2 linked regions of the Homo sapiens genome follow. The protein of the gene in region 2 interacts with the protein of the main gene of each other region in a pairwise test. Each region holds a gene or a part of one and is shown on either strand. Other genes may lie near its edges. The genes, in order: FH and KLHL6.

Region 1 (3,922 bases), on a different chromosome or scaffold from region 2:
AATACAAATAGTAATCTTTTCCATTTCAAGAGTATGCTTATTACTGGTCAAGATTTGGCCAATTCAATGTACTTAGTTTAATGCTTATTTTACTGGGAACTTTTGAAAACGGTCTAAGAATGATTATTTGAAATTTATAAACATTATTTATATATAAACATTATTCACATATATTACATATGTATATTCATTTATATAAGAAATGTATAAACATTATTTACATATATAAACACTATATATATGCCATCATGCTACCAAGTCAGTATCACAGTTGGTCTGCCTGTTAAATATTCTCATTCTCAATGCACTTTTTAATGCATTTTTAATAATCAATGATCACACTAATTATTCATGTGTGATTTATTTGCTTATTTAACTGCTTTGCTTATTTAATCTCCACTAAAGACAAGAATAAAACACTGCCTGTAAAACCCTATCCCCATAGGGACTGTCTTATTTACAGGGCCTGGTAAGTGGAAGGCACTCAATAAACAGTATCTTTCTATTGAATGAATTTGTATGTGTTCTTTTAAATAAAAGGTACCTTAGGGCATCAAGGGTTATGTGAAATTCTCAACATTAGCAACAGGAAGAACTTTTAACAAAACCAACAGAGATTTTGGACCTGAGAATGGTTAGAGGGCAAAAAGTACCAGAACTAGAAAAAACAAAAACTACCTCCATCTGATTTTAGCTAACATTACAATTCTAAGAGCAAAGTAGTGCTGCTATTTTTTGACATTTGCATCAACAGGATAGATTCAGAAGTTCTCCAGTCTGCTTCCCTTTACAAAACACTAAATAAACAATAAATAAATTTAAAAATATGTAAAGGTTTTAAAATGCCCTAAAATTATTCGAGCAGGGAGTTCGAGGAATACAAAACATCTCTGATTCTGTAGTATAGTTGTATATCGTAGGTATAGTGACCCAATCAAATTATCTTGAAGTTTAGAGTCCAGAAAAAGTACTGGCCCTTTGAAATACCCTAGATGGGGCACTTATTTAATGAGCACTCGCTACATGGTATTTTCACATGTGCAGTTTTGCTGAGTAGCTGTAAGTATTTCAACTTTGCATACGGATTTGAAATCACATCTCTTAGATTGCAAACCTCATGCTACACCAGTGCAGAACTGTAACTCTTCAACTATCATTTCTCAAACGTTTCCTAACAATATACATATGTATTTAAAGCTTTTTAAAAGCCTGCATTCCTAAAGATGACACTCTAAAGAGCAAAATGACTTACGTAAGCATGTCATAACCTGAACTTGGATCTTTAAGTTCTTAGCTGGCTTTCTGAATAAAAAGTACCGATTCAGCTCCTAGCCAATCTGCTCAAACATGCTTCAGAACACTATGCCCGCGGTATTCGGAATTGAAGAGTTTTACAACAATTACGGGGGAAACCATAGTCAGCCTAACAAACTGAGCATGCAATTTCAAAGGAAGTAAAATCTTCGAAGAACCTTCTACCCCACCTGGAGGGCCTGAAAGCAGTGCAGTGCCCCTTGGCGAAACAAACCACAGTTCAGAAACCACTAGATGCACAGGCGGCCAGTGTCCGGCCAGCAAGGCCCAGCTATGGGGCAGGACGGTGCGGGAGCTGCCCCTCTCCCAGCACCCTCCGCCCACGCCGGCACTGTCCTTGAGGGCAGCGCCCCGGGGCTGGGGGCCTGCGCGCCAGCAGCAGCGAAGTTACCTCAAAACGCCCCGGCCTCGGCCCGCCACGGACGGCTCCGAGGAGGCGCCGGGAGCGGGCCCAGTAGGACCCTCTCTGACAGCCCCCGTCCCTCCCCAAGCGCTCTCCCGGGCTGCGGCTCCATCCCTGCGCCGGAAGAGGCGTCCCGAGGCCGGGAGGCCCGCCACGCCGGCACGGGCGCTAAGCCCAGAGTCTGGCGCGGCCCGGACGCCCGGGGAATCTCTCCCGCCAAGTCGCGGGCGCCCAGGCCGGCAGGCAGGAGGGCTGAAGGTCACTGCGGGGAGGCCGGGGGATGGCGGCCTGCGCTCACCATTCGAGCCGCGTTCGGAGGCCAAAACGAGGGCACGGCCGCGCCACCCAAGCCGGGAGCCGAAGCTAAGGCTGCGGCTGGAGCCCGCACGAGGGGACGCGAGCGCGCGAGGAGCCGAAGTGCTCGGTACATGGTGCTGAGGGAGCTTGGGTAGAATTTCTGGGCGGCTGTGGCCACGCCTCCACGCCGGTTGTCAGAAACCGTTCCGCCCACCGGCCTCCGCTCTTATCCAATCAACAGCCTCACACCGACAGGTGGGGCAGGACCAATCGTGAATGACCAGTAAAGAATGAGGGGGCGGGTTAACTTTCTAGTAGTAGTGTGGGGTGTAAGGCCTTCGGATTCATGGGAAACTAGAAAGAAGGGAATTATGGGAAAGGAGGCTCAGGTTATTCTTGGAGCCGGTCTGATTTTTACGTGTGGCTGTTAGAAGGCGGGAGTATTAGTTGGTGAATCAGGTCGTGTTTGGTTGGTGAAATATCCTAGAAAGAAATATTTATTGTTTTATTTATCATGTAATCACTCATTACACGTTCTTACTACTGAAATCTTTCTTCATTTCTTCCAGATTGTATCTTCTGTGTAGAAATTTTGGGAAGTGCAGCAAAGTGTAGATAATGAAATAGTAATTATTCATAATCCCACAACTGAAAAATAAGCTACTTACTTATTTCTTTTAACTTATCATTTTGAGATCGCTACCGTTTCCTTTCTCTTCTTAGCCTATACCCTCAGAACTCTTTTTTTTTTTTTAATGTATTGTGGAAGACGTACACAATTATAGGGAACCTCGGAATTTTTATTATTTGTATATCGTTCTCCCAGTTTTTTGCATAGCTAATTTATACATTTTCAAATTAAAGGCATATTGTTTTAATATAATAGTTGATTACAGAAAAGCAGGAATTGATATAAAATTGCATCTGAACCACAGTTTTATCTTTTCTCTTTTCTATTGCTTGGAACCAGATGACAGTAAAGAGAGAGCGATCGGATGTTCTTAAAATCAAAAGTCCAGAACCTGCAAAGCCAAATTTATGAGTCAAACTTACAAACTTGCCAAACCTTTTGGTAACATTATGTTATTTTGTGACTTATAAATTTGACACATATTTAAAATATAAAAATTCAAATGAGATTGTAATAGTTGAACTACAATCAAAACACACTAGAAAACTGAATGCAAATTCTTTAAAACATTGCTAATAATGGAATGACGTTTTGTTTTTGTTCTCCTCCTTCCCAGCAGGTATCATTATTGTGTATATCATTATTTTGATGCATCCTTTCAGTTCTGTGTATTTTTTGCTTCATACACTAATATACAAACAATGGTTTTAATATTTTACTTTAAAGTTTTACTGTTGCATAATTGAACTCTATGCTTTTAAGATATAGCCATGATCTTTTAAAATTAATCATATTGGATCACATGAATATGAAATATTTTATTTATCCAGTTTCTTAATAAAGAACATTTTTCTTTGCTATTACACAAAATTATTTAATGAACATATGTTTATCATTTCTTCATAGATCATCTCTTTCTTCATTGTGTGGTGCCCCTCTTTATTGTTATTGTTGCTTGTCCTTTTAAACTTTTTTTAATATTGATATTTCTCTACCAATTTCATATTGGCTATTATTTGCCTGCTGTATATTTCTCATTTTATTTTATTTTTTGTTTCATTTTTGTTTCGAGCATGTCTCTTATTTCTACCATACAGTTTAACTTTTCAAAACCCAAATTAATAGCCTTTTTATAAATAGGTTATTTTAATCCCTTTTAAAAATTACCTATGACACATATTATGTTCTAGAATTTTTCAAAGCACTTTATATGTATTAATTCTTGGAACACTCAAAAACAACCCTATGAGATAGGTCCTATTATTATTCCTGTACAT
Region 2 (3,922 bases):
TAGTAAAGTTTGTTAGTTTTCTTTATGTTGCTGGTTGCTGTTATTGCTAGGCATTTACATATGTTTTATTACCATTGTGAATGGCATTATTTTTCCATGACTTTTTTTTTTTTTTTGAGGCAGAGTTTCGCTCTTATTGCCCAGGCTGGAGTGCAATGGCACAATCTCAGCTCACTGCAACCTCCACCTCCCGGGTTCAAGCGATTCTCCTTCCTCAGCCTCCCAAGTAGCTGGGATTACAGGTGTACGCCACCGCGACTGGCTAATTTTTGTATTTTTAGTAGAGATGGGGGTTTCACCATGTTGCTCAGGCTGGTCTTGAGCTCCTGACCTTGTGATCCCCCTGCCTTGGTCTCCCAAAGTGCTGGGATTACAGGCATGAGCCACCACGCCCGGCCGTCAGGTTTCTTTATATGCTCCATTATAATCTTTTGGGACCACAATTGTATATTCAGTCCATCATCGATTGAAATGTCATTGTGCTGGGCATGACTGTACTTGTGACCGTTAATTTTAGATGTCAAGTTTACTGGGCTAAGAAATACCTAGCAACCTGTTAAAGCATTACCATGGGGCGTGTCTGTGAGGTTGTTTCCAGGAGAGATTAGTGAGTCTGAGTGGACTCGGTAGAGAAGATACACTCTCAGTGTGGGTGGGCACCATCCAATCAGCCAGGGGCCCAGAGAAAACAAAAACAGAAGAAAGGTCGATGTCTCTATCTCCTGAGGCTGGGATACAGTCATCTCCTGCCTTGAACAACAGGACTCCAGGATCCCCTGCCTTTGGACTTCAGGACTTACACCAGTCTCCCCACCCCCTGGATTCTCAGGCCTTTGGCTTTGGACTGAGAGTTATACCATCTTCTCTGGTTCTGAGGCCTTTGGACTTGAACTGAGCTCTCAGCAGTCTGTCATGCGACTTCTCAGTCTCCATAATCACGTGAGCCAATTCCCCTAATAATTTCCCTCTGCTATGCCTCTCTAGGTATCCTTTTGGTTCTGTCTCTCTGGAGTCCATCATCGACTGAAATATCATTATGCTGGGTATGACTGTAATTGTAATGGTTAATTTTAGATGTCAAGTTTGCTGGGCTAAGAAATACCTAGCAACCTGGTAAAGCATTACTGTTGGGCGTGAGAGAACGCTAACTGATACGCTCCTATAACTTCCCCAGGATATCATGGGATTTTAATAATGACAGTTATTACTACTTAACTGAGACATGCAGAGGTAATGAAAATACTTCAGGATCCACCGTTAGATGCACGGTCAGTAGATGTTGGGCTAATCTGAGACGTGCTATGGCAATTCGGTGTAGACCCACCCTGACTCATCCTCTGAGAAGATGCTGTTGATGGAGTTTTGGAAACCATTTCTTCTGTGCCCCCAAAGCATATTCGAAACAATAGACATTTTTTTTGGTGGGGGAAGACATGAAAGTTTGCCATGACGTTGTTTTCCCCTGGGTAGGGAGGAGGATGAAGATAGACGATCTGCAGTGCCGCCAGAAATGAGAATGTCAGGGATAAGTGGGGTTTCCATGGTTTACAAAGCACGGTTGTTGGATCATTGTGGGGTCTCAGACTCCTGGGAGGAGGAAGTGGGAGGATCATAGACTGTCTCCTGTCCATCCCCTCGCTGACGACTTGGGTTATTGAGCCACTAGGAGTACAAATGTGAAGCAGGAGGATTATAGACTGTCTCCTGTCCATCCCCTCATTGACGACTTGGGTTATTGATAGCATTAGGAGTACAAATGTAACAGCCACCACCGGAGGCTTCCTGCTCACGGATATGAGGTGGGAGATGCACCAAAATAAACACACAGCACTCACAGTGGACTCTGAGAGGACACTCCTCTTCCAGAACCCCCTCCCACACACCTATTCTAAGTAATTTCTAACCCTGTGATTACTCACAGAAAGAAGAAGAATAGAAGTTGCTGGCATTTGTAGTAACAGGATGAGAAAGTGCGAGACTTCCTGTTATGTGTGTGTGACAGCTGGTGATAAGTGGAGGGCCCTGCACAGGAAATCCGCTCAGCTCCTGCAATGGGGCCTGCCTGACACTTGGGCGCTCCTTCAGTCTCGATGTTGATGGCAGGACAAAGGGGCGCCTGGACCATGGGTGATGTGGTCGAGAAGAGTTTGGAAGGGCCCCTGGCACCTTCTACAGATGAGCCCTCCCAGAAAACAGGAGACTTGGTCGAGATCTTAAATGGGGAAAAGGTCAAATTTGACGACGCGGGACTCTCCTTAATTCTTCAGAATGGCCTGGAAACCCTGCGAATGGAAAACGCTCTGACAGATGTCATCTTGTGTGTGGACATTCAGGAATTCTCCTGCCACCGCGTGGTGCTTGCCGCAGCCAGCAACTATTTCAGGTCAGCATGCCTAGGACCAGAGTCAAATTGGGTGCAAGTTGCAAGGAAGAGGTGTGTTAGTGTGAGAGCCCAATCTTGAACAGTTGGCCATGATATTTATGGTTTACATATATATTAAGGCTTGTGTGTCTACTTAAAATATAAGAAAGGACACTATCACACTTTATTTTATTATTTATTTATTTATTTATTTTTGAGACGGAGTTTTGCTTTTGTTGCCCAGGCTGGAGTGCAATGGCGCAATCTCGGTTCACCGCAACCTCTGCCTCCTGGGTTCAAGCGATTCTCCTGCCTCAGCCTCCCGAGTAGCTGGGATTTGCAGGCATGCACCACAACACCCGGATAATTTTGTATTTTCAATAGAGATGGGGTTTCTCCATGTTGGTCAGGTTGGTCTTGAACTCCCGACCTCAGGTGATCCACCCGCCTCCGCCTCCCAAAGTGCTGGCATTACAGGTGTGAGACGCTGCGCCCGGCTTATCACACTTTAAATTTTAGGATTTAGGCCACATTAAAAGAGAGATTGGCATCATTTAAAAGCAATGCTTACATTCTATAGTAAACCTTTTGTGTATATTTCCTTGTTCCAAAGGATGGAAAATTACTGAAGTCATGGGGACTTTTTTCCCCCTTGGTCTGACTGGTGTTGGAAACATAATGTTGTCTTTGTTAATCAACAGACATAGAGAAAAAGGATGTGGCCCCTCTTCTGGAGTTGTCAAATGACTTGTTACAAATTAGGGGCTTCTTTATGTGTAGGCAGTGTGGGGAAAGGGAAAGCAGTTACAAAGATGCTTTAGATGGGAGAGGCCTCTAGTTACGATAAACTGGTGATCTCATAGTGGGAAGGCCTGAAGTCAGGAGACTTGGTTCCTTCTTGACAGTGAAACTTTAGGCAAGTCACAAAGTGCTCTGAATGTCTGTTTCATCATCTGTAAGGTGAGCACAATGATGATCACCTTTCAGGGCTGTCATAATTAAACAAGAGCGTGAAAAGGGTCCTACACAGTGTCTAGCATATAGTAAGTAGATGCTCAATATATCTTTCTTGGAATTCTTTTTCTGATTCTGCTTGATTCAGCTAAGGATGACTTATTGAGTGTTTCCCATGAGCACGTCCCTGGGGTAGGAATTTTATAGCGCTGGGAACCCAGTGAATACACCTGATCCAGTGTTCTCCATATCAGCATGGACATGGGGGAACCAGCCTGCAAGGGCAATGTGGATAATGAAGAAAGTATTTGGGAACTTGAAAAGAAATACCCTTAGAATTCTTCTTAATGAGATTCTTCTTAACTCTTGATTCTGGCTGAGGAAATTGAAAACGATTAACCTATGAAAGTATTATGGAAAGCGTTTTCTTTCTTTCTTTTTTTTTTTTTTGAGGTGCTTGGGGGGAAACGTTTCTTTGTAATTCATAGAGCAGGATCAGCAGGTTGCTGTGGGACTCATTAGGTCTCCTGTGTTGATAAGACAAGGGGATATCTGGGTTTGAGGGAAGCAGTGGCTGCTGTGTGCCAGACAGACATAGTTATCTGA

The links.
Region 1: the proteins of KLHL6 (region 2) and FH interact in binary tests that used the Homo sapiens proteins (3 or more experiments, as listed by UniProt).

The regions. Positions count from the first base shown.
Region 1 is NC_000001.11:241,517,576-241,521,497, forward strand, and holds the start of FH (fumarate hydratase, mitochondrial), read right to left. Parts: upstream 2,181-3,922; 5' UTR 2,148-2,180; coding exon 2,016-2,147; intron 1-2,015. UniProt on the Homo sapiens protein: Catalyzes the reversible stereospecific interconversion of fumarate to L-malate. Experiments in other species have demonstrated that specific isoforms of this protein act in defined pathways and favor one direction over the other.
Region 2 is NC_000003.12:183,553,822-183,557,743, reverse strand, and holds the start of KLHL6 (kelch-like protein 6), read left to right. Parts: upstream 1-2,037; 5' UTR 2,038-2,090; coding exon 2,091-2,383; intron 2,384-3,922. UniProt on the Homo sapiens protein: Involved in B-lymphocyte antigen receptor signaling and germinal center formation.